2 separate regions of the Homo sapiens genome follow, and region 1 is linked to region 2. Evidence: fine-mapped expression QTL. A gene starts in region 2. The other region holds a variant in brackets. All regions are shown on one strand. Distances are between the middles of the regions.

What was found. PIP is the estimated chance that this variant, and not a neighbour inherited with it, causes the effect. A credible set is the group of variants that fine-mapping cannot tell apart.
Region 1: its variant is the best candidate, but not a certain one, in a credible set for the expression of NUDT9 in monocytes (TOPMed, PIP 0.83).

The regions. Positions count from the first base shown.
Region 1 is chr4:87,465,287-87,469,678 of GRCh38, forward strand. It overlaps SCPPPQ1 (secretory calcium-binding phosphoprotein proline-glutamine rich 1), which reads right to left. Exons shown (of 10, transcript NM_001405228.1): 3 at 4,306-4,376; 4 at 2,693-2,725; 5 at 2,523-2,600. The coding sequence starts at 4,362. Among named protein-coding and RNA genes, the nearest start is that of SCPPPQ1, 3.6 kb to the right of the region's middle. The variant A/G (reference allele first, on the strand shown) is at 2,382.
Region 2 is chr4:87,420,661-87,425,052 of GRCh38, forward strand. It overlaps NUDT9 (nudix hydrolase 9), which reads left to right and starts at 1,913. Exons shown (of 8, transcript NM_024047.5): 1 at 1,913-2,352. The coding sequence starts at 2,246. RefSeq lists enhancers at 1,682-1,731, 1,801-2,735, 3,279-3,782, 3,783-4,284.

The DNA.
Region 1 (4,392 bases), 45 kb after region 2:
ACAAATAAGGAAAGTTTCAGGTCTTAGGTAATTCAGTTTTCAAGGATATGTGAAATTTGAACATTCAATTACTCAAATCAAACAAAATATCAATAACTAGTGGTCCCCCAAAGAGAATGTTAGCCAGTAATTATTGGTATCAAATTCTCCCCAATTAAATCTAAAGAATTTTCAAGTTTTTGTTTTGTATTAGTTTAAGTATTTCCTAAGGAAGCTTTAAGTATAACCACCTGATTTGGATTGTAAGGAAAAGGAAAAGGAATAGAAATCTACAAAAAAAAAAAAAAAAAAAAAAAAAAAAAGTAAATTGTGAATGAAACTGTGAACACTCTCTCTTGCTTTTTCTCATTTATTCATACATTCACTCATCCTTCCACCCATCTATCCATCCATCCCTACAATATTTACTGAGCAATTATTCTATATCTAGGGTTTAGGGATAGCAGTAAATGACACTTAGAGAGCTCACCTTCTATTTGGTGGAGATTAGAATCTAGTGGGTTCAATATAATATTTTCTTTCAAGAGGTATGGTTGTTCTTCTTAATTTATCTAACTTAAAGCCCAGGAATCTGTCTTAATGTGTTGATAGTTTTTACAAATCTACCACTTTCCCTACAGTAAGTGTTACTTTCTTTGCTTGCTTTGAAGATACTAGTCTGCCATCTGGTGGTAGGAAGAGTTTCCATTTCACAGAAGAGTGATTCTTTTAATTGTCATATAGATTTAAATAAATTTAAATTTAAATGTTAACAGCGATTCCTAAGTTCTAATTATAAACCAAGACTCCAAGATTTTGCATCAGTTTAAAATAAATCTTGCCAGGGCACGGTCGCTCATGCCTGTAATCCTAGCACTTTGGGAGGCCGAGGCAGGCAGATCACTTGAGGTCAGGAGTGAGTTCGCCCAGCCCAACTAACATGGTGAAACCCATCTCTACTAAAAACACAAAAATTAGCCAGGCATGGTGGCTACACGGGAGGCTGAGGCAGGAGAATTGCTTGAACCTGGGAGGCGGAGGTTGCAGTGAGCTGAGATTGCACCACTGTACTCCAGCCTGGGCAACAGAGAGAGACTCTGTCTCAAAAAACAAAAACGAAAACAAAAAAAACAAATTTTAGCAAACAATAGGGAAACAATGCACCTAGTCCTGACTAGAACCAAAATAATTAGCAATTAATTATAAGTGCAAGAATAATATTTAGAATTTAACAGCTGGGATTCAATCAGAACAAGTAAAAACATTAAAGGAGAAGAAATGTTCTATTGAGGACTAAGTTTAGTGACAAATTTTTAAAAGTTGAGAGAAACACAGTTTGAAATTAAATGCAAGCAAAGGGAAGGTGTTTATTAAATTTAGATATAAAAACAGTTACACAAAATCATGTTTGTATATTTAAAAATATTTAGGAGATCAGACAATATTAAGCAAGATGTAGTTTTAAAATGTTTGTGAGCTGGGCATGGTGGTGTGCACCTATAATCCAGCTACTGGGGAGCCTGTGGGAGGTGGGAGGATCACTTGAGCCCAGGAGTTTGAGACTAGCCTGGGTGACATAGTGAGGTCCTTGTCTGTAAATAAGGGGTATGTGAAGTTTTAAAATGTATGTGATTTTTAAAGAAAAAAATCATTGCTTAAATACTTATCCAAATTTAACAAGGCCCCAATCTGTGTTGCAGCATCATTATTTTAGACTAAAATAATTTTCTACCCGCAAATTGCCTTGTGCTTTTCAAGTCTGCACCCATGCACTTGCTGTTCCTCTGCCTGAAATGTTTCATCCATTTGTCTTCCTTCAAGACCTGGTTCAGATACTGTCTTCTCTGAAGTCTTTGATCCATAGCTTTGTATTTGTGTCTCGAAATACTTATCAAATTACATTGTAGTTTCCCTTTATGAGTCTCTCTTCCTCATCAGATCTGAACTTATACTGTTTGTACCTCAAGCACTCACCGTTGACTCTATAATGTAGTCGACTTACAAAAGTGTTATATATAGAATAAAGGCAACTCTATTGTGTATTTAGCATTGTTCCAAACTTTATTGAAAAAATGTTTTAAGAATCCAGATATTAGGAGAGCCTGGAGAGAGTCCAAACAGAAAAGCAAAATAACTATTTTGCTTGAACTTGGGAAAAAGTTATAGAAAGCTGGGGAAAAAAAATCTTCTTAGAGAAAGAAAGCAACAAGGTGAATTTGAAAAAGCAAAAGAATGGATATTATAGAAAGAAGTATTCTCTTCATAAAGAGTAAGCTCGTAACGGTCAAAGTAATTCAGCACAAACACCTTTTTAATAGTAAGTGCAGAGAAACACTGCGAGAGGGCACTGAAGATTTGGAGGGAAATTTGCTAGCCCCTTGTCACGTTCCACTATAAGCTAT[A/G]TGGGAGAGAAGTTTGAATAGCTGATTCCTGGGGACTGCCTAAAGCCTCATATTTCAGTATCAAAATTTGGAAAGTTTCATAACCACCATCCAACAAATAAATCCTTTTAGCTATTTCAGATTCCCCAAACCCATGCTTACCAGGGGCGGTTGCGGAGGTAGGGGAAAGAGGACCTGAGGGAAAAATGGTGGTACTTGTGGTGGGTAAAAGATAAATCTCTGTAAAAAGAAACATGATGTCAGTCATTTCAGACAATGGCAGACTTTTAAAATGATGAATGCATTATTTAAAAATACAATTAGAAGTTCACCTGTTCACTGGAACTTTCAGCATATTGTTCGAGCTTGCAAAACAATAACAGCAACAAGGTAAAGCAGCATATGGAAATACATTATCCACTAAAGAGAGGTTTTGTTCTAAAGGAGAATAAGTAATAAGCCACTATGGAGCATTATACCCATCAGTAATGTAACTTCACTTCTGAAATAAAAAGCAGTTGGATATCTAATAGGGAAAAGTTTAATTAATTTTGTGCAATGATTTGGAAGACCAAGGCTTTTTGCTTTTAAATTTATATCCAAAGAATGCTTTTATTTACATTTCTTAAGATTAATTCCATATTACATGAATATTTCCTTTTGTAAATCTTTGAATGGTGTTCTTGATTTAGTTCTCAGTAGTTATAAACTCAAAGTGAAGGGAGTGTGGAAATGTACACTTAAGTTCTGCACCCCAAACACAAATTTTGAAAGCTCCCTCACTTCTTCAAAAGCTCCTTTGATACAAAGTGTGCAGGGGAGAGAGTTTCTTGCCTACTTGGTGCCCTCATATTCAGACTAGTAAACCCAGATTAGACTCAGTGGATCTCATTTGTATATAGTCAGTTGATGACAAAATGTCTATATAGGTGAAGTTAATGATGTTCTGGGATTACAGTATTTCATATATTCTTAGATGCTATCATTGTCAAAAGCACCATTATTTCATAAATTACCAAAAAAGAAAAGCGCTGCTGTTAAGCTGCCGTGACACTTTATCAAATTGTGTTTTTAAGACACAGCTCAATTTCAGAGCTGCTGAAATATCAAAAAGTACATATTAGAATTAATGAAATATGTATACTGCAGCATTCCCATCAGCCTAAAGAAACAGGCAATACAAATTGTTTGGAATTTTAGACCACGATACTTGCCAGCTTTGGCAAAAAGGATTGTGGTCTAAAGAAACAAATTAGGTTTGTTATCAAGGGCACTATAGATGAATGTAGCTTTTTATCCAAATCTGGTTTTCAAAAATTGGACTTTAAAGGTGTGTCTGTATGATCACTCAAATATAATTCAGGCATAAGTTGTTTTTATATTCATAATTTAGTAATCAATGTAAGTTATCTTAAATATTTCCTTCTTTAAAATCAAATCTACAATGAGGTAGATAGTCCTTTGGTGTCAGAGCATTTCCATGTAACAGCCTTTTAAGAAAACATGAGATGGTTTGGGGCAAGGGCATTACAAATGAAACTCAATTCAAACTGCTTAATTTAGACCTGGGTCACTGCAGAATATTTGTTCTATATCACTGAGTTTATTGAGAACATCCTATCTTTCAAATAGGACCCTTCTCTGCCTTAGATGCATTAAAAAAATCATCTCCGTGCAACTCTGAGGTGTTCCTAGGACTCATTTTATAGACAAGGAAACCATGGGTTAGTTCAAAGTCACACAGCTAGCACATGGCATATGGAGCTGAGATTTGTACTGGGCAGAGTCTTGGACTGACAAAGAGTGGTGAACTCCTAGTTCTATGACTTTCCTGGGTTCCGCTTTCCTCTTTTGTGAAATGAAAAGATAAGACCTGCTTTCTAGCCGAGAAATGCGATGACTCTAAATCTGAAATTGAGTCAGCAGCTGAGGAGGGTGTACTCACGGGGATGGGCAGAGCAGTGGCAGTGCTCAAAAGGCCAGCCAAGATGAGAAATTTCATTCTAAAGGTCGAGCCTGGAATTGAAGGGGT
Region 2 (4,392 bases):
AGACAGCAATTACATCCTACTCCCCACTTTGTTATGCATTCATCTCTTTAAACTGCTTACTATAGCCACAAGTAGCTAAAAATTAACCTAATAATGGTACACTGGACACTGTAACTCGCACCCTATAGCTTAACGTATAGCCAACCACTAACCAATACTATTTCTACAAACCAGTAATTCTTTACAACTTTGTATCAGTCAACTCCCTGTCCCCTTTTTGCCTTTAAAAACCTGATTGTAACAAAGGTGGACAGGAGTTCACATTTAAGGTTACTTGGGTCTGGGTCTTCTGGGCAGCTGTCCTCACTTTGGCTAAAGTAAATGCTTTAAGTTCTATCTCGTGCCTCAGCGTCTAGGTTGACAGTGTAGTTTGAACAGTCAATACCTGTCGAGAGTTCTGCAGTTTTCAGAACAATGGTTGTTAAAATTCGATTAATCTGGCTTTTAAGATGGTCAAAGTTTTGTAACGTCGGTGTATTGGAACCACACCACAGAAACAGCGGATCATGTAAGTAAAAGTCAAATAGTTGCCACATCAATAAGCTAATATAAATGAAGTAAGCCTGATTACAAGCTGCTTTGGACAGTCTGGGTTTCCAACTTTGTTTGTCGGTTTGTTTAATTTTTGCCTCTCAAGTTTATTATCCAGTATTATGTGTGTTGCCCTCTGTTCCTCCTCCAGCATGTGTGCCTATTTTCACAGCTTTTCTCCTCCACGAGTTTCCAAGGGCCACAACTGGTCCTAGCAAAGCCTTGTGAATGAAATCCAGCAATTGGAGCAGACAACTTGGTTAAGAAAACAAAAACAAAAAACCAAGAAACCCTTCAAGATACGAGGGCTGAGTCTCTGGACTATCTCCTCTTGCTGTAACCGCCCAAGGGGTTCACCTTTCCCGCTTCCTAGACAGAGCTGATTCATCAAGACAGGGGAATTGCAATAGAGAAAGAGTAATTCATGCAGAGCCAGCTGTGTGAGACCGGAGTTCTATTATTACTCAAATCAGTCTCCCTGAGCATTCAGGGAGCAGAGGTTTTTTCTTTTTTTTTTTGATACGTAGTTTCACTCTTGTCGCCCAGGGTGGAGTGCAGTGGTGCGACGTTGGCTCACTGCAACCTCCACCTCCCGGGTTCAAGCGATTCTCCTGCTTCATCCTCCTGAGCAGCTGGGACTACAGGCGCGTTTACCACCATGCCCAGCTAATTTTTGTATTTTTAGTAGAGACGAGGTTTCACCACGTTGGCCAGGCTGGTCTTGAACTCCTGACTGCAAGTGATCCCGCCTCGGCCTCCCAAATCAGTCATAATTTTGCAAAGGCGGTTTCATTCCCATAACGAAGTATTATTCAAAAATATGGCTAAGACCTGCGTCCTTCCGCAACAACTTACTCCCTAAAAAAACCAGAGCAGGGCCAGGCGCGTTGGCTGAGGCCTGTAACCTCAGCACTGTGGGAGGCCCAAACAGTTGGATTATTTGAGCTTGAGAGTTGGAGACCAGCCTGGGCAACATGGCAAAAATCTGTCGCTACAAAACATACAAAAATTAGCCAGGTATGGCGGTGTGTGCCTGTAGTCCCAGCTACGTCGGGGGCTGAGACAAGAGACTCGCTTAAGCCCAGGAGGTTGAGGCGGCAATGAGCTGAAATCGCGCCCCTGCACTGCAGCCTGGGCGACAGAGCCAGACTCTTGTCTCAAAAAACAAAAACCAAAAACCCAGGGCAGCAAGTCTCTCTCAAACCCCTTGGCTTCTTTCCCACTTATTCCCGTTCCAGTTCCTCGTCTGTTTCACCTTTCCTTTCCTCTGACACTTTCTTGGTAGTTCCCTGCGTCCCCAAGTAAGCCTGCGCAGACTGGGAAGTCTGGGAAGTCGGAGAAGGAAGGCGCTACCAAGCCGGCAACGCACGACCTTTGCTTTGCGGCGCGGCCGTAAAGCGCCATTACGCAGAGAGAAAGTTACGAGGTTCGTGGCCGCGGTTTCCCCAGGCAGCTGGCGCTGGAGGCTTCGGCGTCACGTGCTGGTCTGGATTTTTCTCGATGCACTGGGGAAAGCGGTGGACTCTTATCGTGGGAGGGCTCTTGATCTGTGATTTATAGATAGGCACAGCTACTCCCGTTCGGGAACCCAACGGCAGACAGGTCCTAGTGCCCATCAGATACCCGCGGCCGGGACTCGGAGCTGTGGGGTGTGGGGAGGCGGAGGCACCAACTAAGAGCGACCTAGCATCGCAAAGCCGCCCTCGGGGCGCTCATGGCGGGACGCCTCCTGGGAAAGGCTTTAGCCGCGGTGTCTCTCTCTCTGGCCTTGGCCTCTGTGACTATCAGGTCCTCGCGCTGCCGCGGCATCCAGGCGTTCAGGTATTCCACCCTCCTACTACCGGCTCCTTTGCCCTAGACCTTGAGTTGGGGGTGGGAAGCAGCTTTTTTTTCTGGCGTATTCTGTAGGCTTTGCTTTGCCTCTCGGGTTTTTATAGTCATATACAAGTTTTCAAAAAGGCTCTAAAATATTTTATCTGCCTTTTGAGGAAAACGAGTGGCAGGGACCCTTCTTGACTTCTGATTTTGAAATTTGCCATTCTCTGTAAATCATTGTTAGTATCACGAGAGAGTTTAAATAGCAATTGTTTGGGGTGGTGGTGTCCCGTGCCATTTTTTTATGGTTAATACTTAAAACATTATTATTAGTATTAATACATGTACATAGTTAAAACAACTTGAAAATGTAAAATGAAAAGTAAAATCACTATTCCCCCTGTCCCCTTTCCAGGGTGGACAATATATTATATTTACTATCTACCTCCTTTTTTTTAATAATTTGTCTATTGTGGTTAAATTTAGGGATTTATGGTGTCTTACACTGCCTCCTTCTGTTCTTCCCTTCTCCAGTTTTTATTCTTTGAGTTAGTAAACACAGGGTCCTAGGTGCAGCAGCCTTTTCTTATTTTATAGATATTAAAAGTCTTGAATCTACAAAGATGATAATTAGAAAAATCTATTTCCTAAATAATTTACTTACTGTTGGTCAATTGTTCTGTGTCTTTTTGGTCCTGTTTCCTTCTGTTGCTTTTTCTCGAACATGTGATGGGCACTGGTTATCTGTCTATATTTTGATTAATATGAGTAATAGGTCTTGTTTTCAGTACATGGGTCGCTAATTGACTTTTGGCTCTGTACCAGGTTGCCTAGATAGGAAGGTTTCAGTTGAGGGCATGTGAGCAGGTACCAGATGGGTAGACTGGGAACCTGCCTTTTGCTTCAGGCTTTGCAGTAGTGGTGGAGCAACTTCTCTGCTGAGTATAGCTGTTTATTTCCTCCGTGTGAACTGTAAAATTATTAAGCCTAAGTTTCTGCTGTGTACTCTTAACACCAGTATTCACAGTAGGGGTCCTACCCCTTCATTTCTAAAAAACTTTTGATTTTATCTTGGAGACAAACATAACTATTTTGGACTTTTTGCTTGGAGATTGGGGAGGGAGGAGGACTGAGTGATTTCCATGGTTATTGTCGCGCTGCCAGTTTATGATCCTTGGGCCCACTGACTTCAAGCTTGAAACCTCTAGCTCGGCTCAGCTTGTAGGAATAGCATTTCTCCCTAATGCGTTTTTTTTTTTTTTTTTTTTTTTGAGAAGGAGTTTCGCTCTGTCGCCCAGGCTGGAGCGCAGTGGCGCGATCTCGGCTCACTGCAACTTCCGCCTCCTGGGTTCAAGCGATTCTTCTGCCTCAGCCTCTTGAGTAGCTGAGATTACTGGCGCGCGCACGCCCGGCTAATTTTTTTTGTATTTTTAGTAGAGACAGGGTTTCACCATCTTGGTTAGGCTGATCTGGTCTTGAACTCTTGACCTCGTGATCCGCCCGTCTCGGCCTCCCAAAGTGCTGGGATTACAGGCGTGAGCCACCGCGCCCGGCCTTGGTGCATATTCTTATTTTACTTTGTCCTACTCTGGTTTGTAGGTCAATATTCCAACAACTTTTCATTTTCCTGAAGTTGGTTACCATCTGTCATTCACTGGTGGCATTTATTCCTTCTCCTGGTACGGATTTTATTTCCCTTTATCTATCTTTATCTTCTTTTAGTGGGATTTGAGGAAGGAAGGAATACACGTGTGTGCTCTCTGGAAATCTCTAATGCTCTTTTTGTTAGATGCCAGCAGAACAGTGTAAAGTTGCTTGACAGTTATTCTTCGTTTTTGTAACTCTGGGAACCCTACATGAGGCAGGTATATCCAGAACCAGAGACTGTACTGACTTGAAAGAAAAAGCCAACAGTTAACAAATGTGCCAAGTACCTGGTAACTAATGTGGCAGAATAGCTTGAACCGGGGAGGTGGAGGTTGCAGTGAGCTGAGATCATGCCACTGCATTCCATTCTGGGTGACAGAGTGATACAATGTCTCAAGA